Linked DNA regions of Homo sapiens: regions 1, 2, 3, 4 and 5 are each linked to region 6. The links come from fine-mapping of genetic effects on gene expression. A gene starts in region 6. Each other region holds a variant in brackets. All regions are shown on one strand. Distances are between the middles of the regions.

Region 1 (4,088 bases), 39 kb after region 6:
TCATTCTCCGTCCAGCTTTGTTCCGTTGCTGGTGAGGAGCTGCATTCCTTTGGAGGAGGAGAGGCGCTCTGATTTTTAGAATTTTCAGTTTTTCTGCTCTGTTTTTTCCCCATCTAATGCAATATGGATTAAAGACTTAAATGTTAGACCTAAAACCATAAAAACCCTAGAAGAAAACCTAGGCATTACCATTCAGGACATAGGCATGGGCAAGGACTTCATGTCTAAAACGCCAAAAGCAATGGCAACAAAAGCCAAAATTGACAAATGGGATCTAATTAAACTAAAGAGCTCCTTCACAGCAAAAGAAACTACCATCAGAGTGAACAGGGAACCTACAGAATGGGAGAAAATTTTTGCAATCTACCCATCTGACAAAGGGCTAATATCCAGAATCCGCAAAGAACTCAAACAAATTTACAAGAAAAAATCAAACAAACCCATCAAAAAGTGGGCGAAGGATATGAACAGACACTTCTCAAAAGAAGACATTTATGCAGCCAACAGACACATGAAAAAATGCTCATCATCACTGGCCATCAGAGAAATGCAAATCAAAACCACAACGAGATACCATCTCACACCAGTTAGAATGACAATCATTAAAAAGTCAGGAAACAACAGGTGCTGGAGAGGATGTGGAGAAATAGGAACACTTTTACACTGTTGGTGGGATTGTAAACTATTTCAACCATTGTGGAAGTCAGTGTGGCGATTCCTCAGGGATGTAGAACTAGAAATACCATTTGACCCAGCCATCCCATTACTGGGTATATACCCAAAGGAGTATAAATCATGCTGCTATAAAGACACATGCACACGTGTGTTTATTGTGGCACTATTCACAATAGCAAAGACTTGGAACCAACCCAAATGTCCAACAATGATAGACTGGATTAAGAAAATGTGGCACATATACACTATGGAATACTATGCAGCCATAAAAAATGATGAGTTCATGTCCTTCGTAGGGACATGGATGAAGCTGGAAACCATCATTCTCAGCAAACTATCGCAAGGACCAAAAACCAAACACCACATGTTCTCACTCATAGGTGGGAATTGAACAATGAGAACACTTGGACACAGGAAGGGGAGCATCACATTCCAGGGCCTGTTGTGGGGTGGGGGGAGTGGGGAGGGGGGAGGGATAGCATTAGGAGATATACCTAATGTAAATGACGAGTTAATGAGTGCAGCACACCAACATGGCACATGAATACATATGTAACAAACCTGCATGTTGTGCACATGTACCCTAGAACTTAAAGTATAATAATAAAAAAAATAGCTGGGTGCAATGGCAGGTGCCTGTAGTCCCAGCTACTTGGGAGGCTGAGACACAAGAATTGCTTGAGCCTGGGAGGAAGAGGTTGCAGTGAGCTGAGATCACGTCACTGCACTCCAGCATGGGTAACAGAACTAGACTCTTCAAAACAAAACAAAACAGAAACAAACAGAAACAAAAACAAAAACAAAGCTCTACATCTTTTAGGACAAAATAATGCTCCCTAAAAAAATTGGGTAAAAAGGAAATCACAATGGAAATGATAAAATATTTAGAACTAAACAACCATGAAAGAATTACTATAACCAAAACCCATAGATGCATTAAAAACAAAACAACCAACAAAAATAGTTTAAAATAAATGAGTTATGCATGCAATTCACGAACCTGTAAAAGAATAACTAGAAAAGACCAAAGAAGGAAGAAAATTTTTAAACTAAACTTTGTAAAAATATGAAAAAACCTTAGGTTCAAATGA[C/T]AGACTAAAATCTATTTCTTTGGACAAAAACTAAATGAAAGGCAAACTACAAGTAAACCTAATTAAGCAAAAAAAAAAAAAAAAAAGAGTGAAAGCATGAAAAGGACATAACTAAAGTATATACGTAGGTATACATATTTACATATACATTACTCAAGCATATTTTATTGTTTAAATCTTCTGTTTCTTTACTGCTCTTTGGTGTTTTTGTTTGTTTGTTTTGAGATGGAGTCTTGCTCTGTCTCCCAGGCTGGAGTGCAGTGGCGTGATCTTGGCTTCCTGCAGCCTCTGCCTCCCGGGTTCAAGTGATTCTCCTGCCTCAGCCTCCTGAGTAGCTGGGATTACAGGCACTCACCATCACACTTGGCTAATTTTTGTATTTTTAGTAGAGACGGGGTTTCACCATGTTGGCCAGGCTGGTCTTGAACCCCTGACCTCAAGTGATCCACCTGCCTCGGCCTCCCAAAGTGCTGGGATTACAGGCCTGAGCCACCACACCGCACCATCTTTACTACTCTTTGTTTTATGTTTTTCTGTGTTAAGTCTCCCATGATGGCTTCACGTTTTAAATTTTTTCCTTGTAATACTATCAATATCTGCTTAATATTTTGAATCTATAAGATGGTAAATATCCAAATTAACCTGTGGATTCAATGCAATTCACAACAAAAATCTCACAGATTTTTTTTTCTGTGGAAAATGAACAAGAGTCAGGTACCCAAATTCAGGACAGCTCATTCTGTCCTTTTTGCAAAGGGCCCAAAAGGGCCAAGATAATTGTGAAAAATAAAAGGATGGAGACATTTACATTACCTGATGTGAAGATGACTTATCAAATTATTGTAATTAAGACTGTGGAAGTCAGGTGCAGTGGCTCACACCTATAATCCCAACTACTTGGGAGATTGAGGTGGGAGGATCGCTTGAGGACAGGAGTTCAAAACAAGCCTGAACAACACAGTGACACCCTGTTTCTCCCTCCTTCTCAAAAAGAAAAAAAAATAGATAATGTGGTATTGGCACATGATTACATAAACAGAACAGAATAGAAAGCCTAGAAATACAGAAGAAACATTAAAAAAAAAAAAACAGAATGAGGGAACTATGGACTGTCCACCTAATGGGGCTGATGTAACTGGTTAAATACGGAAAAAAACATAAAACTACATCCCTGCTTTGTGATCTTTTTGTTTTTAAGTTCCAAAAGATCAAAGGCCTATATGTGAAAAGCAAACTTTAGGGACCTTCACTGGCCGATCCAGAGGAAATCTAAGCATCAAAAAGAGTAATGAAAGTACTAGATTATTACACTTTGAATTTTTTTAAAAATCCATGAGTCCTAGGAAAAATCAATATCGTGAAAATGGCCATACTGCCCAAGGCAATTTATAGATTCAATGCCATCCCCATCAAGCTACTAATGACTTTCTTCACAGAATTGGAAAAAACTACTTTAAAGTTCATATGGAACCAAAAAAGAGCCCGCATTGCCAAGACAATCCTAAGCCAAAAGGACAAAGATGGAGGCATCATGCTACCTGACTTCAAACTACATTACAAGGCTACAGTAACCAAAACAGCATGGTACTGGTACCAAAACAGAGATATAGACCAATGGAACAGAACAGAGCCCTCAGAAATAATGCCACACATCTACAACCATCTAATCTTTGACAAACCTGACAAAAACAAGAAATGGGGAAAAGATTCCCTATTTAATAAATGGTGCTGGGAAAACTGACTAGCCATATGTAGAAAGCTGAAACTGGATCCCTTCCTTACACCTTATACAAAAATTAATTCAAGATGGATTAAAGACTTAAATGTTAGCCCTAAACCCATAAAAACCCTAGAAGAAAACCTAGGCAATACCATTCAGGACATAGGCATGGGCAAGGGCTTCATGTCTAAAACACCAAAAGCAATGGCAACAAAAGCCAAAATTGACAAATGGGATCTAATTAAACTAAGGAGCTTCTGCACAGCAAAAGAAACTACCATCAGAATGAACAGGGAACCTACAGAATGGGAGAAAATTTTTGCAATCTACCCATCTGACAAAGGGCTAATATCCAGAATCCGCAAAGAACTTAAACAAATTTACAAGAAAAAATCAAACAACCCCATCAAAAAGTGGGCGAAGGATATGAACAGACACGTCTCAAAAGAAGACATTTATGCAGCCAACAGACACATGAAAAAATGCTCATCATCACTGGCCATCAGAGAAATGCAAATCAAAACCACAATGAGATACCATCTCACACCAGTTAGAATGGTGATCATTAAAAAGTCAGGAAACAACAGGTGCTGGAGAGGATG
Region 2 (4,088 bases), 73 kb before region 6:
GCCTCAGCCTCCCGAGTAGCTGGGTAGCTGGGACTAAAGATGTATGCCACCACACCCAGCTAATTTTTGCATATTTTTTGCAGAGACAGGGCTTCACCATGTTGCCCAGGCTGGTCTCAAACTTGTGAGCTCAAGTCATCCTCCCGCCTTGGCCTCCTAAAGTGCTGGGATTACAGGCACCAGCCCACATGCCCAGCTGTAAATTATTTTATTAAAACATGGGAGTCTCATCCATTTAAGGTTACCTACCTGGGCTCCTGTAGTATTTGAGCTGATGATCCCTACTTGATGGGAAGAAAAATCATGCATAATCCCTTCCAGAAGAAACTGGAAGGTTTTGGAAGAATATGTTGGCCTTGATATCCCTTAGATTGTTTTCATTGACATCAGTACTCTTATCGGATAAAGAAACCATTATTAACCAATGGTAAACTAAGGGATTTAATTTCAGGAATAATTTTAGAAGACACAGGCTTACTGGCGTAAATATATCTGGTCAGGTGTGTGTGACCATTGACTCTGACAGTTTATAGAATGTTTGAGGTCACAGATATAAGACTTAAATGGGACACGCTGTTCCACGTTGTTGCCAAATGTTACATTTTAAAAGCAAAATCCAATACCATTTTAAAAAGTTGATTTTTTTTTTTTTTTTTTTTGAGACAGAGTCTCACTCTGTCACCCAGGCTGGAGTGCAGTGGTGCGATCTTGGCTCACTGCAAGCTCCGCCTGCTGGGTTCACGCCGTTCTCCCGTCTCAGCCTCCTGAGTAGATGGGACTACATGCGCCCGCCACCACACCTGGCTAATTATTGTATTTTTAGTAGAGATGGGGTTTCACCGTGTTAACCAAGATGGTCTTGATCTCCTGACCTCGTGATCCGCCCGCCTCGGCCTCCCAAAGTGCTGGGATTACAGGCGTGAGCCACTGCTCCCAGCCAAAAAGTTGACTTTCTAAAGCATTAGGTTGTGTTAAAATTCAGCAGAGGGTTGAACTCACTTTAGAAGAGATATATGATAGCACTGAAGAAAATACATTTTGATTAGTAATGATTATCTAACACAGATCTGTTAGTATTAAAATACTTATAAATTGTAAAGGCCCAACTGTTCTGCAAGACTGGATACATAGGCCTTTTCTCTCCTGAATATATAGTAGGGAGCAGGGAGGAATTGAGAGATCTGGTCATCCAAACCTGCAAGAAGGATTATTCATGGATGCATTTGGAGTGTATGCTTCTTGAGAGCCACCACTTGTCCAGAAATATCTGTGTAACACAACTGCTAAATTATGAGTTCTGCTGCCAGGCAATACTCTTTTTCAGCTAGATTTGCTTTTCCTGCTCTTTTAAACAGGTGTATAGGTGGAAATGCCATATGTACAGAATTTTTTAATGATGTGACACCTGCAAAGTTTATACAAAAATGTGGAAAGAAAATTCTACAACTCAAGCTGATGTCATTGCTTAGAGCCCAGACCACCAGAACACATCAACCAGGCCAAGCAAAAGCACTATCAGCATGGAGGCCCCCTTTGTGCGGCTGCCCAAACACTGACAAGATGTAGTGGACTCCATACAGCAGGAGTGCCCTAGCATTGTGGACTTAGTTCCTGAGCAAGACTCCAAATTGCACCACGTTCTTCTGAGCTCTGGGGCCTGCGGACATGCTCTTCCTCTGCCCAACATGCTTGCTCCCTCTCTCCTCTTTTCTCTGACTACTTCCTATTCATCCTTGAGGTCTCAGCTTAAATATTACTCCTCTGGGAACCCACTTTGATCTTCCAGACTGGGTTAGGTGCCCCTTGTTTGTGTCCCCACAATTCCCCTGGACTTCCCCTTGAAAGCAGTGATCACACTGAATTGTGTTCCCTTGTTTACTTGTCCATATCCTCTCATAGCATCCGTGCTTCATGAGGCCAGGTACCAGGTCTGCTTTGCTCACATCTGTATTCCTGCTGTGGAGTAAGTTGCTCAGAAGATGTTGGTTGTGTGGTTGAACCTGTCTGCTTCACAGCTCACTCACATACTCTTAGTTGGCTTCTCAGCTGTGGGACTGGCTCATGGTTGTGGGCAGGGCTTAGTAGTTGGCCAACAATGGCCTTGATGCATAAAAGAGTTTCCCAAGAGGCAGAAATTCTTGGGTTACATGAACATGAAGTTTTGCATGCAGCCTGGAACATCTCAAAAACCTGACTGGAAAGAATAAAAAGGGAAAGGAGAATGTGTGTGTGGATGGAGGAGGAAACTTGGAAATATCTCTCCAAGACAAGGTGAAGGTGATAACATTTTGACCAGAAATCAAGAATCAGAGACCAGAGGTCAGAGAATCTAAAAGGATAATGGAAGTATTTCTTGGAGGAACGAACTTCACAGTGGAACCACAAAGTCACCAGAACTCTGTGTGTGGGTTCTCAGACTGAGCATGAAGTCTGAGAGGGGTACAGAATTAG[T/C]AGGACTCAATACATGTTTATATCAATTGGGTTCCATTCTGTTCCTGAACTCGGGCAGCTTCTTTCAGCTAGCAAAGCCATGGCTGATCTTGGGTTAGACAGGAAGAGAGTCTTACCCAAGATAAAGAGTCAGCAGACATCAGGGAGGGCTATAGGCTGATACACTGGAAGGATCTAAGATGCAAGGGTGAGAAAAACACCAAGAACTGACACCAGAATCCAGCCTTGCCTTTACAGCTTGGAAGCTGGCCAGAACCCAGCTGGTTAGAAGAAAGCACAGGCTCTCTAACCGTCCTATGTGGTTTTGTTTTTGTTTTTGTTTTTGTTTTGATACAGAGTCATGCTCTGTTGCCCAGGCTGGAGTGCAATGGCGTGATCTCGGCTCACTACAACCTCCGCCTCCCAGGTTTAAGCGATTCTCCTGCCTCAGCCTCCCTGCCTCAGCCTCCGAGTAGCTGGGATTACAGGCATCCACTACCACACCCGGCTAATTTATCTATTTGTAGTAGAGACGAGGTTTCACCATGTTGCCCAGGCTGGTCTCGAACTCTTGGCCTCAAATGATCCACCCACCTCAGCCTCCCAAAGTGCTGGGATTATAGGTATGAGCCACCGTGCTCAGCCCACCTCCTGTTCTTAAGGAGCTCTGTTTTTTCTCTACCAGGAAACAGTGTAGCTATCAGAGCTTTCCATGGTCCTCAGCATAGAGGACTTACTATGGCCCATAAAGTCTGTCGTACCAGCCTTATCTTTTACCATGAGCAGCTAGGCAATTACAATGAAGGAATGGCCTCAATCCGAAACGGACTGTGTTTTCTGATATCAGAAGGATATGGAGAAGGAGAATAACCCCCACCTGATTCTTAAAAACAACAACAACAACGAAACCCTGAAAGTTCCATGTGGCAAAACAGGAATGATCTCTCTCCAAGGGTAAGTGGCAAGAACCCCCTTTCTCTATCACTGGCATCTGTTTAGGCCCTTCTTGCCTCTTCTGGGCCTGGGCTCCCCAGAACCCCAGCCCTGCTCAGTCTGAGCAGGGAAGGCTGAGCTATTTCTGGGGCTCAGCAACTCTGAGCCCCACCTGTCCCCTTGACCCAGGGAGGCTCTCATACTAAATGGGTAGGACAGACTCCAGGTGTGGGCCCACCCTCCCTTACACGGGTTGCAGCCTGAGGTTGGTCAGACAGGGAAGTTACCTCCTCGGCCCTCACTGGCAGCTGGCTTCACTTGGATCGGACGATTCATCTGAAAGACATCGGACCAACACACCCATTCAGCGTGACTGCCTGGTCCTGGAGCCCCCAGCTTCTCGAACCCTGGACTCCTCAGGATCTGAGCCCTAGCCCCTTTGAACTCTGCACTCTACCACTTCCAAACTGGGATTACAGATTTTCTCCAAGATTCCTTCCTTAAACCCAGGAATTTAGAAGGTGCTGAAACTGGCAGGGATGGGTGACAGGAACTTAGTGGCAAGCACAAGGTGGAATGAAGCGGCTAAAGAGACTTTTCTGCCTGGGGCTCTGGGCAGGGGCTATGTGAGGCCTGTCCCTTTGGCTTCTGGACTTACTTAAAGGCTTTGCATGAGAGGATTGGGAAGGAGGGTAGAATTGATACTGCAGATTTGTGTTTTATGT
Region 3 (4,088 bases), 85 kb before region 6:
AGGCTAAAGGCCGCCACGTGTTGCATCTGGGCCGCCACTGCCGCCACCGGGCCTAGGCCTGGGCCCTGTGCCGCCGCCAGCAGGGCCGCCTGGTGCTGCAGGATCTTTGAGAGGAAAGATGGGCGAGAGTGGAGGGCCAAGGGGCAGGCAGCTGCCCGTGCTCTCAGCCCCAGGCCTGGCCCACCCACCTGCGCGCCCTCGCACGCAGGTGCCCGGTACCTACCGCCGTGGTGTAGGCGCCGCAGGCCCCTAGCGGCAGTGGCGCGGGGTGGAAGGCGCCCAGGTGGCCGGCCATCTGCTGCATCCGCCGCAGCGCGCGCTCCCGGTCGGTGTCCGCCAGCTTGACCACGAGGCTGGACGAGGCGCCCTGGGCAGGGCAGGGGAGGCCGTGGTGACCGGTCCTGACCCTGGCCCCGGCCCGGGGCCGAGCGCCTTTCCCATCAGGTCCTTTCGCGGGGCACCGAGCACACTCGGGGAGGAGAAGCCCGTCCCCACCCCACTGGCCTCACCCTCAGCCCAGGGAACCCGCCCTCACCGCCATGGTCCGGCTGCCGTGCAGACCCCGGATGGCCGCCTGAGCTTCCCCTTGACTCCCGAACTTCACAAAGGCACAGCCTGGGGCAGGACAGAGGGAGCGGGTGGCTCAGGCCACAGGGGCCAAAGAGTTATGTGGCCCAGAGTGAGGAAGGGTCACCAGGAAATCCCGGGGTCAGCTCAGGTCACCTTTACTGGTGCCGTCAGGACTCCGCAGGACCGTGCACTCCTCGATGTGGCCAAAGGGCTGGAACAGGCGTCTGACGTCCTCCTCACCCTGCTGCTTGCCCAGCATCCCCACAAACAGCTTTCGGTCCTCTGGGGACAAAGCCAGGAATGACCTGGGGACCCCAAGTCTTCCTAGACCCCCGAGAGTAGCCTGAGGAACTTAGGAAGGCAGCTCACCAGTCTCACTCTGGGAAGCAGAGGGAGTGAGAAGGCCCTGGGCTTCCAGGGTTGGTTTTCATTGAGGGGCAGGATCTGGGGAAGGGATCTGGAGAAGGGAGCTCAGCTCAGCTTTCCATCAGGAAAACCTGGGTCCTGGGGAAACCCAGAGAGGCTCAGGGCTGCTCTTGTGGGGAGTAATGCAGTCTTGATATCTCTGGCTGGGTAGAGCCCTATATGCATTGTTTTACATGTTTGACCTTTCTGTTCTTAGAGGTTGGGAAACGCTGTTTTGGACCATTTCTGTACTATTAAGGAAGCGGGTGCTCAGAGAAAGCCTTTCTATTCAGACTGGGTCCAGAGAAGAGAAGTACATCCTTGCTGGTCAGCCTGATAGTGCTGGCTAGAATCAATGCCCCTTCCTGCTAATATCAAGGAGGGTTCTGGATTTAGAAACAGCACAGAAAACAGTCCTGTCATCCTACTGCCTCATCTTTAGGCACTGAGCACTGGCATGATGAATCCTTACCCTCTGCACCACATCCAACCTGGATGCCCCTCCCAAAGGCCTACAGAGAGCAGGACCTTGGTTTCCTGAGCCTCCAACATTAGCATTTTTCCTACTACAGTTGCTGAACCCCTGACCCCTTTCCTTAACTCCCACCTCCACCACCCTGTCCCTTCAGCAAGCTTCTAGTGCCCTGTCTGTATCCTTCCCTCTGATTCCCCTGTCCTCTTGCCCTGATGCCTCCCAAAATGTTCATGCTATGAGAGAACAAGTTCTGCCTATAGACCTGGATTGCCACCAGAGAACCAGTCTGATTCCTCCCTGTGTCCACCCTTTCTATGGGAGTGGCAGAAATGCAGGAAAGGGGCTGCAAGCTGGGCCTGTGTCCCTCGAAGAAAGCTGGAGAGCTGGGGCTGGAAACTAGGGTTTTGCCGCACATCCAGCAAGTTAGGCCTCAGGAACACTCTGGGAGCGTGGGGTAGAGGGGTCCAGCCTGCTGTTAAAGTCTGGGGCTCTTCTCTGCACCAAGGTAAATCTCTGAATTTGGGATGGGGCTTGACCATGTAGGGGACAATACAAGTTGGGAGAGAAGGAGTGGGTAGGAAACTGGTTTCAGGCTTCATCTTCAAGACCTTGGAGTGCAGGAAAACCCATCCTAAATGGTTCTACTCCTTGACCAGCTTGGCTAGGCAGATGGGGGTCCTTGGATTCTGAGTGCAGGGAAAACAAGGCTAGTGGGGGGTCATAGACTGAAGCCTGGGTGACAGCGAAGGAAGAACAGACTGTTCAAAACTGAACGAAGTTAGCAGGGGAGAAATCTCCAACAAGACTATGTGTGTGTCCATATGTCACCCGGGTGGTGTGGGGTTTGGCCTAGGCTGCCTTGGGGATCCTGAAGTGTCTGTCTGTCTGACGATGCTATGTCTGTGTGGAGGGCAGGGGCTGCAGTTCATAAGGGGCAGGCAAAATGTGTTTTAGCAAAATTCTGCCGTCTGTCCAGAGAGGTACCATCCGATGATCCTTGG[A/G]GAGGGGATGGATAATGGACTTGTGGCTGGAATTCTGATGGAGGAAAGAAGGTCTCACCAGTGACCTTCTGTGGTGAGAGTACAACCTGGTGGGTGTACTTTGCTTCTGGGGGTGTCAGCCACAGAATAGTGCCCTTGGAACAGATCACTGGTTTCCCAACCTTTTGAAAAATCAGTGGAATACATTGTTCTAACATAAATATTAGGATGAAGCTCAAAATGTAAGAGAAAAATAGAACTGCTGTGACTGAAGCCAGAAAAGGAGGGGTGGAGTTCATCTTGCTTGATCCTCCCCTAATACTCCCTAGAGGGGCTCCAAGGAAAGCCCTTTGAAATTACTGACCTAGAAGATAGAGAACAGAGTTCCAGCTGTTGTTTGAGGGGGGATCTGAGATCATCCTGTTCAGGAGCCTGAGAAGACAGGAAAGGTCTTTCATGAGTCTCTCAACCAATCTGATGGCTTTGCCTTGACATTGGAGAATGGGCTCATTTGGCCAGAGAATCAAACCCCGAAAGACCATGCCATTGTTCTAAGTTATTCTGGGCTGCAGAAGGCCTGGGAGAGGCTGGAGAAGAGTCTAGGGCCTCCATAGTCCCAAGGGGGGCTTCACAATGCCCTAATTTGTAGTGGAGCTGTGTCATTGGGCAGGGTCTGAAAAATGGTGATGGCACCCCAATAAGATATCATACCACATGGACCAGAATCCAGGTAGCCTTGTGTAGGAAGAGAGACATCACAGGCTGAGATAGAGCCCATAAGACAGAAAAGAGGTTTGTACTGACAGTGGTGATCTGATCCTTCATCTGCTCTGCCTCTTGTTGCTTTTTCTGCTGATGGTGAAATTTTCCGATCCTCTTTTCCAGTGAGAATCTCACAAGTTAAGAATTTTCAGCAGGGCGCAGTGGCTCACGCCTATAATCCCAGTGCTTTGGGAGGCCAAGGTGGGCTGATCACTTGAGGTCGGGGGTTTGAGACCAGCCTGGCCAACATGGTAAAACCCCATCTCTACTAAAAATATAAAAATAGCCAGGCGTGGTGGCACATGCCTATAATCCCAGCTATTCAGGAGACTGAGGTGGGAAAATGGCTTGGACCTAGGAGGCGGAGGTTACAGTGAGCCGAGATTGTACCACTGCACTCCAGCCTGGGCGACAGAGTGAGACTCCAACTAAAAAAATTTTTTTTTCCATTTCCCTGTCAGGGCACTGACCCTATGGATCTGGACTACTGGGATGTACAGAGTTTGGAATGGAAATGAGTATCTACCATGGGGTGGGCTCTAGGCTCCTGTTTCCCAGGTATCACCTTAAATCCTGGTATCCTCTTTGCCACTTTACAGGGACCTTGATTGTGTTTGACAGGAGGATAAGCTGGATCACAGTGGTCATGAGCCTCAGGTGACCCAGAAATGGTGGGATAAGTTTCTTAAGAGACCCGGCCAAAGAGAAGTACATGCTGGACCCCTAACAGTAGCCCCGCAAACCCACAGATCTGAACATTCTGATGGCTGATCATTGATTGCCTCCAAAGAGAGATGATGATGGGATGTAGCCCAGATAATTCAGTTTCCTCTAGATCAAATTCTATCATTTGGATAAAAAGCGGACGCTACAAGAGGCAAGTCAGAAATGTCTGA
Region 4 (4,088 bases), 30 kb after region 6:
AGAAGAATCTGCCAGGTGTGGTGGCTCAAGACTGTAATCCCAGCACTTTGGGAGTCTGAGGTGGGCAGATCGCTTGAGCTCAGGAGTTTGAGACCAGCCTGGGCAACATGGTGAAACCCCACCTCCACCAAAAATACAAAAAATTAGCCAGGTGTGGTAGTGTGCACCTGTGGTCCCAGCTACTCAAGAGGCTGAGGTGGGAGGATAGCTTGAGTCTGGGAGTTGGAGGCTGCAGTGAGTAGAGATCATGCTACTGCACTCCAGCCTGGGTTACAGACTGAGACCCCGTCTCAAAGAAAAAGATAAAGAAAAAAAAATGTGGCTCAGAAGAATAACATAGACTCCCAAGGCAGGAAGTTCGCTGGACCTTAGGGGATTCCAGAGGAGGCTGGGATCTCAGATAAAGAAAATCAAGCCAGCCAGTCACTCAGATTTTCTACAGTCACTTTGTCATTCAGCTTTGTTTATGTTTTGTTTTATCTCTACAGCTCAGTTTTTCCTGTTTATTAGTGTGTAAGTGCCTAAAAGGTGATACCCCGGTCAAACTTTACATCTTCTCAGTTCAAGCAAGCAAAAGAGGAAATCCAATTTCTAAGCATAAGAATAAAATTGTCCCAGGATGGGTCAGGTTCCCATGCTTAGTCCAGGTAGCTATAGTCAGAGGGCTATACAGACAATAGTCAAGGGCTATAGACAAGGGCTGCTAGAGCTCATGGAGGATTGTGGACTAAATACCACAAAGGCTGCCTGTTACCCTGGGCTTCATACAGCTCAATCTGGGCTTATGTTCTGGCTGGCTACATATACTGCTAATTCTGCATAACCCAGTCTTCAGAAAATGTGCAGCTTGTGAATTACTATGTTTTAATGTGGCTCACTTGTTAGGGCTACAGAGCAACTTAACATCTGTGGATAGGGGTGTGGTTTCTCTGAATGGAAATTCCTGCAATTCATCATATTAGTAAGTGGCAGGTTCTGGAGAACAAAATGAAACAAGGAGGCAGATATTAGACTGGATAAGCTTGATACATAATTTCTGCTCTCTGGGTTACTCAGAAGCTGGACTTGGATTCTTAGGCATATAAGTGGTTAGAGAACTTTCTAACCACTGGGGTGGGGGTGAGCTGGTCCCTGCTACACTGGGACAGAAAAAGAAGCTAGATAAGGAGGCACCTTATAAGGGATACTGAAGATATTCCTGGGTGTCTGGTAGCTCAGAAAAGCTATAGCTACTTGTAATTATAAGTTATCTTCTAAATCTTCAGTAAAATATTGATGGGGAAGTCGAAGAACCTGTTCCATCTTAGGGATGTGGTAGCAAAAAGTAAGGTTGAGCATATCCCCGCTGCTCTCTTACCAACATCCAGTCCGCAGTGGCAGAGCCAAAGAGAAGACACCTAGAGCCAAAGATGGAAGAAGGAGAGGTGTGGCACTTGGATAAGAGCAACTTGAACAAATATGAGATAGGACTTTGGGGGACTCTCAGAATAAAAAAAAAGTGGAGGGAAACACTTTGTGGTAAGTTCCTGCAGCTTGGTAAATTGGGGCTTGAAATCATCATAATATGGAATTAAAGTAAATGAGGCTG[G/A]GCGAGGTGGCTCACGCCTTTAATCCCAGCACTTTGAGAGGTCAAGGCGGGCAGATCACCTGAGGTCAGGAGTTCAAGACCAGCCTGGCCAACATGGTGAAACCCTGTTTCTACTAAAAAAAAACAAAAATTAGCCAGGCATGGTGGCATGTGCCTGTAATCTCAGCTACTCTGGGTGACAGAATGAGACTCTGTCTCAAAAAAATAATAATAAAATAAAGAAATAGATAAATAAAGTAAATGTGACTTCATTTTGTAGTCATAGGCTGACAAGGCCTGTACATGCCAGATAGAGCTGGAAGTGAAAAACCAATGGAACTAAACAATGGGTAAGTCATTAAGCAAAGTATATTAATATGATAGAATATTTTGTAGCCATCGAAAATAATATTTACAACAGATAATGGGGAAAATCACATCATATATTCTTAAGAAAAAAACCCACATGATATCTAGTATCATATCTACTATGTACAGAGGGTAGAAAAATAAAATATTAACAATGGTTGCCTCTAGGTAGTCAAATTGTGGCTAATTTTTTTCCTGCTTCTTTGTTCTTTTGTAGTCTTTTGAATACTTATGTTGAACGCGTATTACTTACTACTTTTAGAATTAGAATTAGAAACAAGAAAAAGGTTTAATCTGTTTTGTCATTGGTGACACCTTTTATAAGCTAGTTTATATCTAAATCAATGCATGCAGAAGTATTTGTATATTATCTTTAGTTTAACAATCATAGTAAAGAAATTCCAAGCAAAAAGGATGTCATGTAGCAAGCTCTGCTCCATCATCCTTTGTTCTTAAATCCTTCTCTAAGACTCTATCTGGCCTTTTTAAGGGAAGGTCCCTCACTGGACTAACCACGGTCTTCCTTTCCTCTTCTTCATGCAGATTATCTCCAATATTCCAGGGCCTTCTTTCTCATCTCTGTCTTTACCATACTTACTGGCCTTGGCTGGCTCTTCAGCTCTTGGATCCTTAATCGAGGAAGCATGACCACCAACTTGGATCTGAAGGTATCCATGCTCAGCTTCATCTCAGGTACAGACCTAGACTGGCAGGGTATTTTACCATGGTAAAATAGTCAAGGTAACAAATTTTCTCTGTGGAACTCTCATACTCTTTTTCTTATCTCTTTGCTCTTCTTCAGTATCACACCAACTTGCCAGCTATCTGCCTTATCTAATTATATAGAACACACCTTAGCTGACTTTACCAGGGTATAGAGCCTTTCTCTCATCTTGGTCAGTCCCCAGGTTTTTATCTTTTTGATCCTCGCTATACATATGGCCTCTGGAGGCCAAAGAGCTGGGGGTGGCGGGGAAGACAGACTGAAGATGCTGATGGGTTGTGACATCTTTCCTTCTGGTCCTAGCTACCTGCTTGCTCCTCTGCCTCAACCTGTTTGTGGCACAGGTTCACTGGCATACTAGGGATGCCATGGAGTCAGATCTCCTATGGACCTATTATCTTAACTGGTGCAGTGACATCTTTTACATGTTTGCTGGTGAGTCACTTCCCTGCTCTATGCTAGAAGGATGGATAGGGAAATCGCTTCTGGAAAGGGAGGTATAATCCAGGAGAAATAGAAGCACTGACTGTTCCTTTTCAGAACACTGATACTTGGAGAGTCAGGGGGGCATAATGAAGAAAGGGTGGATTTTAGAGTCTGAAAACCTAGCATTAGTAACCTGCTCTATCACAAAGTGAGGCATGGACAAGTTGAGTAACTTGCCCAAGACCACACAGAAAATAGTGGAACTATGATCTGAATCCAGGAGGTTCAAGCTTTGTCCTAATCAGTCTGAGAAATATTATAATGCAATTAGAGCACAGGAGGGTAAAGTAACTCCACTGGGGGAGAGAGGGGTTCACTGAAAAGATGCCTCTTGAACTGGTTATTAAAGGATGCATAAGAATTTTAAAAGCCAAAAGACCATTGCCTATTGAACCTCACCTCAAATTATTCCCTTCCCGTAGGGATCATCTCTCTTCTCAACTACTTAACTTCCAGATCGCCTGCCTGTGATGAAAACGTCACTGTGATTCCAACAGAGAGATCAAGGCTGGGGGTTGGTCCGGTGACTACAGTATCACCTGCTAAAGATGAAGGGCCAAGGTCTGAGATGGAATCTCTAAGTGTGAGAGAGAAAAATTTACCAAAGTCAGGACTGTGGTGGTGATAGGAAAACCTAACTATAGCTTGTCTTAAAAGCAGGGGAGAAGCTGAGTTGGGAATGGTCACATAAATTCTGGGAAACTCTCCTAATATCATGTCCATATTACTTGAGGAGACAGCATTAAAGCTGATGAAATGTCTTTTGCGTGCATTGGATCCAAAATATATATGATAGTCATAAAGTAAATAACTCACTTAAGAAAAACATTTCTAAAAGAAAACAACAATGTTTAGAGTCATGAATGAAAGAAACTAGTGAAAGATGCAGTGTGTAGACCAGAGACCTCTTTGGGTATCAGGGATCTCATGGACCAGAATGGC
Region 5 (4,088 bases), 43 kb before region 6:
TATGAAAGGGAGTTTATTAAGGAGTATCGACTCAAACAATCACAAGGTGAAGTCCTACAATAGGCCATCTGCAAGCTAAGGAGCAAGAAGCCAGTCTGAGTCCCAAAACTTCAAAAGAGGGAAGCTGACAGTGCAGTCTTCAGTCTGTGGCCAAAGGCCAGAGTCCCTGGCAAATCACTTAAGTCCAAGAGTCCAATAGCTGAAAAACTTGGAGTCCGATGTTTGAAGGCAGGAAGCATCCAGCACAGGAGAAAGATGAAGACCAGAAGACTCAGCCAGTCTGTCCTTCCACGTTCTTCTGCCTGCTTTATTCCAGCTGCACTGGCAGCTGATTAGATTGTGACCACTGGATTGAGGATGGGTCTGACTTGTTAATCTCCTTTGGCAACATCCTCACAGACATACATATGGAGGAACAATACTTTGCATCCTTCAATCCAATCAAATTGACACTTGATATTAACCATCACAATAGCTCACTGCAGCCTTGACTGCCTGGGACTCAAGTGATCCTCCCACCTCAGCCTCCCGAGTAGCTGGGACCACAAGTGTGTGCCACGCCCAGCTAATTTATTATTATTGTTTATTTTATTTTTTTTAGAAATGGGGTATCACTATGTTTCCTAGGCTGGTTTTGAGTGTTTTTCTTTGGCCTATGTATTATTCAGAAGTGTATTGGTTAATAAGCTACTCCGGAGACTGAGGCAGGAGAATCGCTTAAACCTGGGAGGTGGAGGTTGCAGTGAGCTGAGATCGCACCACTGCACTCCAGCCTGGGCGACAGAGTGAGACTCTATCTCCAAAAAAAAAATAATAATAATAAAAGAAAAGAAGTATATTGGTTAATCTTTAAATATTTGACTATTTTCTAGCTATATTTCTGTTATTGAATTCTGTTTAATTTTTTTGTGATTTGGGGGCATACAATGTATGATTTCAAGCTCTTTAAATATGTTAAGGAGTGTTTTATGCCCAAAAATGTGGTCTATCGTGGTGAATATTCCGTGTGAACTTGAAATGAATATATAGACCAAGTTGACTCATGTTGCTGTTCACTTCAACTATGTCACTACCAATCTTCCTCCTGGATCTGTTAACTCCTAATACAGGGCTGTCAAAAACTCCAACTATAATAGCAGATTGTTTATTTCTTTTTGCAGTTCTATCAGTTTTTTTTCTCTCTTATGTATTTTGATACTAGGGCATACCCATAAAGGATTATGTCTTCTTGAAGAACTGATCTCTTTATCATTGTGTAATGGCCCTCTCTTTATCCTTTTTTTCTTTTTTTTTTTTTGTTTGTTTTTGAGACAGGGTCTTGCTCTGTCACCAAGGCTGAAGTGCAGTGTTGTTGCAATCATGGCTCACTGCAGCCTCAAACTCCCAGGCTCAAATGATCCTCTAGCCTCACCCTTCTGAGTAGCTGGGACTACAGGCACATACCACCACGCCTGGCTAACTTTTGTATTTTTTGTAGAGATGGCATTTCACCATGTTGCCCAGGCTGGTCTCAAGTGATCCTCCTGCCTCGGCCTCCCAAAGTACAGGGGTTACAGGCATGAACCATCACACCTGGCCCTCTTTATCCTTCATAATTTTCCTTGCTCTGAAGCTGACTCCATCTGAAACTAATACAGCTTTATTTTTTCTTTCATAGAGATGGGGGGGTCTCATTATATTGCCCAGGCTAGTCTCAAACTCCTGGCCTTAAGTGATCCTCCCGCCTCGACCTCCCAAAGTGCTGGGCCACCATGCCCAGCCTCCAGCCTTCTTTTGATTAGTGTTAGCATGATGCATCTTTCTCCATTCCTTTACTTTTAACCCATCTGTGTCTATATTTAAAGTTGATTTCTTACAGACAACACCAGTTGG[G/C]TCTTTTTTTTAAATTATTATTATTATTAGAGTCAGGGTCTCTCTGTCACCCAGGCTGGAGTTCAGTGGCACAATCACAACTCACTGCAGGCTCGACCTCCTGGGGTCAGGTGATCTTCCTGCCTCTGCCTCAGCCTCCAGAGTAGCTGGGACTACATGCACGCACCACCACACCGGCTTTTTGTACTTTTTATAGAGATGCAGTTTTGTCACGTTGCCCAGGCTGGTCTTGAACTCCTGGGCTCAAGCAGTCTCCCCAACTTGGCCTCCCAAAGTGCTGGAATTACAGGCACAAGCCACTGAGCCTGGCCCTTTTTAAAAAATTCATGTATTTAGACCATTGATAAAATTGCCATTGCTATTTCTTTTTTCTTTCTTTTTTTGTCTTCTTTGGTTTTAACTGATCATTTAATATAATTCCATTTTCTCTTTTCTGTTAATATAGCAGTTATACTTTTTTGGGGGCATAGGGTCTGACTCTGTCCCTCAGGCTGGAGTACAGTGGCACAACCATGGCTCACTGTAGCCTCAACCTCCCAGGCTCAAGAGATTCTCCTGCCTTAGCCTCTTAAGTAGCTGGGACTACAAGCCTGCAACACCATGCCTGGCTAATTTTCAAAATTTTTTTGTAGAGACAGGGTCTCACTATGTTGTCCCAGTTGCTCTCAAACTCCTGGATTCAAGTGATCCTCCTGTCTTGGCTTCCCAAAGTGCTGGGATTACAGGTGTGAGCCACTGCACTCAATCCTTCTCTTTAAAAAAATTTTTAGTTGCTGCCCTAAATTTCACAATATACATTTATAAGTAATCCAAGTCTCCTTTTCTCTTGTTTTCTTTCTCTCTCTCTTTCATTCCTTTTTCTTTCGAGACAGGGTCTTTCTCTGTCACCCAGGCTAAAGCACAGTGGTGCAATCATAGCTCACTGCAGCCTTACCTCCCAGGCTCAAGCAATCCTCCTGCCTCAGCCTCCTGAGTAGCTGGGCTAATTTTTATTTTCTGTAGAGAATACAGGTCTTGCTATGTTGCCCAGGCTGGTCTTGAACTCTTGGCCTCAAGCAATCCTCCCCATCTTGTTCTTCGAAAGCATTGAGATTACCAATTCCTCTCTCCCATTCTTTTTTTTTTTGTTTTTGTTTTTGACAAGAGGTCACCCAGGCTGGAGTGCAATGGTGTGATTTTGGCTCACTGCAACCTCTGCTTCCTGGGTTCAAGCGATTCTCCTGCCTCAGCCTCCTGAGTAGCTGGGATTACAGGCGCATGCCACCATGTCCAGCTAATTTTTGTATTTTTAGTAGAGACGGGGTTTCACCATGTTGGCCAGGATGGTTTTGAACTCTTGACCTTATGATCTGCCCACCTCAGCCTCCCAAAGTGCTGGGATTATAGGCATAAGCCACCACGCCCAGCCTCATTCTTTATAACATTGTTGTCATGTATTTCACTTATTCATAAGGTAATCACTGAATACATTGCTGGTATTATTATTTCGAACAAACTGCTATTTGTTACATCACTTCAGATTAAGAAAAATAAAATGTTTTGTTTTATCTTCATTTACTCCTTCTCTAATGCTCCTCCTTTCTTCCTATAGCCCCAAGTTTTTTTCATATAGCCCCTAGATCATTTTCTCTCTCTTCAAAGAACCTCTTTAATTTTCTTGCAAGGCAGATCTACTGGTGATAAATTTTCTCAAGTCTTCTTTGTCTGAGAAAATCTATTTCTTCTTCACTTCTGATGGATAATTTTGCTAGAAACAGAATTCTAGGCTGGTGGGTTTATCCCCCCTTTTTTTCTTTCTTACATATTTCACTTCACTCTCTTCTTGCTTGCATGTTTTCTGAAGAGAAGGCCAATGTAATCCTTATCCTTGTTCCCCTATAGGCAGGTGTTATTTTTCTCTGGCTCCTTTCAAGATTTTGTCTTCGATTTTCTGCAGTTTGAATATAATAATCTATAGATATAGATTATTACTTGGCATTTATCCTGCTTGGTGCTATCTGAGACTCTTGGATCTGTGGTTTGTTGCCTGTTATTAATTTTGTAAAATTCTTGATTGTTATTACTCCCTTATTATTCTCTTCATGTGCCTGGTTATTTCTGATTATATGATAGGCATTGTGTTTGAAAAATATTTTTAGAAATAATTGGAGGTCTAGGGGTACGTTTTCCTTCTACAGAATGGATATACATTTGTTTCTGGAAGGCATCTAGGGGCT
Region 6 (4,088 bases):
CTGCACTCAGCCTCAGTGTAGGCTGAGTGATAAAGCGAGACTCCGTCTCAAAAAAAAAAAAAAAAAGGAAAGGAATTATTCTCATGTATACAATAGTAGGAAACAACCTATAAAGCTTTTGAGAATCTTATAATTCACTGTGTACCTCCCTCTGTTTCATATTTTCGCAATTGAACTATAGAGCCTAGGCCTAGGTCTTAAGACTTTTCTTGTAACCTTCAGAGTGCCCAGCACTGGGATTGACATATACCAGTTAGACGGATTTTTTTTTCCATAAACCAGGCTCAAACTCTTCTAAACCAAAATCAACATATTCTGAGTGCCAATCTTGGGTAAGGCACTCTATTATTTGTCATGAAGGATTCAGAGGAAAATGTGATCTACCACACTCAACAGCAGGCCTCTTATCCTCTCCAGCTTAATGCATTTTACCAGTTAAGGACTACCCTGATGCTGAGATTGTGTTTCTTTCCCCAAATCAAATGTCACTCTCTAAGGGTCATCTGTATAATTAAATGCTTTTAATTCTATATATCAAATGATAACTTTTGTGAAAGTAATTTAAACACACTTGAAACATCATATAAAATATTACTACAAGACTTAACCGTAAATGTGGCTCCCACCCCCATAACATCTATACAATATAACCAAAGAGCTAGATTCCAGATTATCAAGAAACTTCTAAATTTTGAACCCATGCAGCAGAATTGTATTCCTTTACATTGTTGGCTCGACTTACAAATGTGCTGTGGAATAATTATCCTCAAATACAATTTTCAGTACTGATTACATAGCTGCCTAAAAGAAAACTGTTAGCCCCTTCCATTTTATGTGAAACCAATGTCTAAAGCGCTCTTGACTCTTCAACCCCACATTTTCCCCACCCTCATCCCTCCTCAATCCCCAGCCCCCACTCATCACATCCACTAGACCTGAACTTTGAACTCAATCATAATTCTTTGTGCCTCTGCTCAAGCCCTTCTTCCTGCCTGGAATACCCTCTTTTCAGTCCCGGCTAATTACATCTACCATCCCATTCCAAGTGGCCGCTGGAAACTCACTTCCTTATGTTCTATGATTTCTTTCACAATTTACACTTTTTTTGTTTTGTTTTGTTTTGTTTGGGGGGGGGGGTTGTTTTTCTGAGAGGGAGTCTTGCTCTGTTGCCCAGGCTGGAGTGCAGTGGCGCGATCTCAGCTCACCACAACCTCCACCTCATGGGTTCAACCGATTCTCCTGCCTCAGCATCCCGAGTAGCTGGGACTACAGGCGCGCGCCGCCACGCCTGGCTAATTTTTTGTGTTTTTGGTAGAGACGGGGTTTCACTATGTTGGCCGGGCTGGTCTCGAACTCCTGACCTCGTGATCCGCCCGCCAAACATTCTATGTGCCAGAAACTTGTATGTAACTTTGCATAGTTCTTGTATTATGTCTCCCCAATTTTGAGTGTTTTCTCTGGTCTCTACTCAGCCCTTGCTCACAGTCTCACTAGGACCCTGGCTAGCTTGAACACGGTCAGAAGGATCACCTTAGATTTCTGCTGGCACAGTATTTTCCATAAATTAATCTCCTGATTGAACCGTAGTCCTATAGTAGTTATCTTTGGATGAAAACCTAATGCAGCTCGAGGAGGAAGTGGAGTGCCTGTGATCAGAGGGCTGGACAAAAGCCCATAGGGCGTCTCTGGAGCCCTGGGGGAACTGTCCCCAGGCAGGCACTCTCAGGGCCCAGGAACAGGGCGGGACAAGTCCGACTCACCTGTGAGGTAAGGACGGGGCCAAGACCCGGAACCGAAAAGCAGGTCACGATAGCGCTGGAAGGCCTCGTCGAGGACTGAGCAGCCGGGCTGCGCGGCCGAGCTGACATCGTACTGGAATTGAAAGTTGTTCGGGTAAAGGACGTAGCGCTGGTCGGAGGTTTGGAAGTTCTGAGGCCAGGGCCAGAGGGCCGTCGCCCGTCCTGCGAACGCTGCCGCCAGCAGCAGCGAAAACCAAAGCCTGGAGCTTGTCATGGCCCGCTGGTCTCCCCTCTCGGAGGGGGCTGGCCACGTGAGACCCTGGTCAGGTGAGCGGCGCCCCCGTGACTTATCGGCGAATCACGTGACCAGAGGCGGCTCTGCGCCTGCGACCCCAGGAGGACCCACACCCTGCCCTTTCACTTCCGGCCTGGACCTGAGGCTCCTGCTACGTGCAGCGGATTGTGCCGGGCGTCGGCAACTGCTCGGCTCGCCAGACTGTTCACGGGCCCAGTAGAGCAGTAAATAACCGGCCACCCCTGCGGCCGTGCCGGCCGTGATGGAACTAGACAGCTCACCCGACTCGAGAAGAACGGGGTGGGGAGGCGAGGACGCAGGGCGACCTGGAGAAGAAAGTTTCCCAGATGGCTCTAGGGTGAATCTTGAATGTTGTGATGCAGCTCGCCAGGCCTACGGGGAGGTAAAGGACTTGCCAGGCTGAAGTAACTTCAGAAGCAGAAAAACGGAGGATTAAAACCACAAGTCGTTGTGATGTGAAATTTCGTGGGGCAAGAAAGGGCCGGAAGTAGGTAGTCTGCACGGCTCTGCTAGAGAGAGGATCACAAGATCACACAAATGTGATCTACTTATGACTGGAAAAAATGTGTACTTTCAGAGCCAGCTTGAGGCATTCCATTGCCTCCAATATGAGCTCTTCCCTTCAAGATTGACTATAAATCTCTTAGTTACAACTCACATCCCCTTTCCCCAGACAAAACCCCACATAGCCCGGTGTGTATTTACTGAAAGCAGTAAGATATTGCTGGGGCTTTGGGTGCAAGATGGAGAGTGCTCAGAGATAATGACAGGGGCCTGGTCCTGCAGGGCCTTACGTAGAAAGTCAAGGAATTTATTCTCTGAGCAATTGAAAATCATCCCGAAAGATCTGCATTTTAGAAATACCATGTTGAGTAGTTGCATAAGAAACCAGTTAGGAGGCCCCTTTTTATTGGAGGTAGAGAATAATGAGAGACTGAACTACAGAAGTGGGGAAGGAAGACAGCTGTAGATCCAAGAAATAGTATCCGGAAGAGAGGCTTGAGAAGTGATCAAGGAGAATTCCACAGTTATCAGAGACCCTGTCTTCCTTGTTCACCACTATATTACCAGAACATAATACAAATAATGCTATTGTTATTGGGTGGCATTATTTGGTTAGTAGGTACTTTTTAAAATTTTTAAATTTAATTTTAGTATTAAAATACATGTAAAGATCAGGAAAATGAACTTTTAAAAATAAAGGGCTTTCACTGGGCATGATAACACATCCCTGTAGTCCCAGCTACTCCCAGCTATTCAGGAGGCTGAGGCGGCAGGATCACTTGAACCAAGGAGTTCAAGTTTAGCCTGGGCAGTATAGTGAAACCCTTTCTCAAAAACAAATAAAGGGCTACTGAAATAATGATAATTTATATTCAGGTCGTAGGTACCTAATTACTAGTTACACATACATGGCTTTGATGGGAAATCAAAGAAACATTCTGACAATACAGAGATTCATCAAGCAATTTGTCTTTGAAAGTTGATTATTCAAAAACAGAGCTTGTAGCAAAAGAAGCAGAAATTAGATCCCACAGTCATCAAGTTTCAGATCCTAAGGCTTGCATTCTTACACCAATTTCTTCTTTGCTTAAATCTTAATTTTCATCAGCATTAATTAAGTGTCTGGGTACTCTGCCAGTCAGGAGAGATGTTACCAAAGGTACAGGATTTGAGAAGTATTGTCAGAAGAGCCAAGTTCATAATCAGGCCCACAGGATCAATAATTTGGGGGAGTGTTTAGAGCAGTTTCAAAGATGAGAGCAGTAGATCAAAGTAGAATTTCAGGACTGAGCACATGCCAAGGCACCCTTTTATGGATATTCAACCTGTACCAGAAGGGAGGAGTCATTTACTTAAAAGAGTTACACAAGATGAAAGAGCTAGATCCAAATAAAGACGCTATAAAAATTACTAATGGGGCTGAGCATGGTGGATTACAGGGATTCAGTTATTTAATTATTACTGAAAGAGCTCTTTTAGACTTAACCAGATTTTTAAACCAAATATTCTTATGCATACATAAAAGTAAG

Alleles and levels. Positions count from the first base shown, and alleles are read on the strand shown. Sizes are in standard deviations (SD) of each study's normalised expression. Not every link is listed here.
As copies of C replace T in region 1, the expression in unexposed skin of the gene that starts at base 2,055 in region 6 goes up (small effect, 0.33 SD a copy in GTEx).

Evidence for each region. PIP is the estimated chance that this variant, and not a neighbour inherited with it, causes the effect.
Region 1: its variant is the best candidate, but not a certain one, in a credible set for the expression of HEXA in unexposed skin (GTEx, PIP 0.61).
Region 2: its variant is the best candidate, but not a certain one, in a credible set for the expression of HEXA in aorta (GTEx, PIP 0.67).
Region 3: its variant is the best candidate, but not a certain one, in a credible set for the expression of HEXA in subcutaneous fat (GTEx, PIP 0.83).
Region 4: its variant is the best candidate, but not a certain one, in a credible set for the expression of HEXA in T cells (TOPMed, PIP 0.84).
Region 5: its variant is the best candidate, but not a certain one, in a credible set for the expression of HEXA in blood mononuclear cells (TOPMed, PIP 0.67).

What each region holds. Positions count from the first base shown.
Region 1 is chr15:72,412,593-72,416,680 of GRCh38, forward strand. All of the region lies in intron 2 of TMEM202-AS1 (TMEM202 antisense RNA 1), which reads right to left. Among named protein-coding and RNA genes, the nearest start is that of TMEM202, 16 kb to the left of the region's middle. The variant C/T (reference allele first, on the strand shown) is at 1,767.
Region 2 is chr15:72,301,096-72,305,183 of GRCh38, forward strand. It overlaps CELF6 (CUGBP Elav-like family member 6), which reads right to left. Exons shown (of 13, transcript NM_052840.5): 3 at 3,651-3,699. Among named protein-coding and RNA genes, the nearest start is that of CELF6, 17 kb to the right of the region's middle. The variant T/C (reference allele first, on the strand shown) is at 2,452.
Region 3 is chr15:72,289,404-72,293,491 of GRCh38, forward strand. It overlaps CELF6 (CUGBP Elav-like family member 6), which reads right to left. Exons shown (of 13, transcript NM_052840.5): 4 at 724-852; 5 at 536-615; 6 at 224-367; 7 at 1-104. Among named protein-coding and RNA genes, the nearest start is that of PARP6, 19 kb to the left of the region's middle. The variant A/G (reference allele first, on the strand shown) is at 2,452.
Region 4 is chr15:72,404,123-72,408,210 of GRCh38, forward strand. TMEM202 (transmembrane protein 202) reads left to right here. Exons shown (of 5, transcript NM_001080462.3): 3 at 2,480-2,629; 4 at 2,964-3,095; 5 at 3,569-4,088. The coding sequence ends at 3,771. TMEM202-AS1 (TMEM202 antisense RNA 1) reads right to left here. Exons shown (of 4, transcript NR_135678.1): 4 at 3,657-3,723. Among named protein-coding and RNA genes, the nearest start is that of TMEM202, 7.9 kb to the left of the region's middle. The variant G/A (reference allele first, on the strand shown) is at 1,589.
Region 5 is chr15:72,331,055-72,335,142 of GRCh38, forward strand. No RefSeq gene overlaps it. Among named protein-coding and RNA genes, the nearest start is that of CELF6, 13 kb to the left of the region's middle. The variant G/C (reference allele first, on the strand shown) is at 1,873.
Region 6 is chr15:72,373,960-72,378,047 of GRCh38, forward strand. It overlaps HEXA (hexosaminidase subunit alpha), which reads right to left and starts at 2,055. Exons shown (of 14, transcript NM_000520.6): 1 at 1,761-2,055. The coding sequence starts at 2,013. It overlaps HEXA-AS1 (HEXA antisense RNA 1), which reads left to right and starts at 2,154. Exons shown (of 1, transcript NR_027262.1): 1 at 2,154-4,088. RefSeq lists enhancers at 1,291-1,846, 1,847-2,403, 2,295-2,434, 2,765-2,814.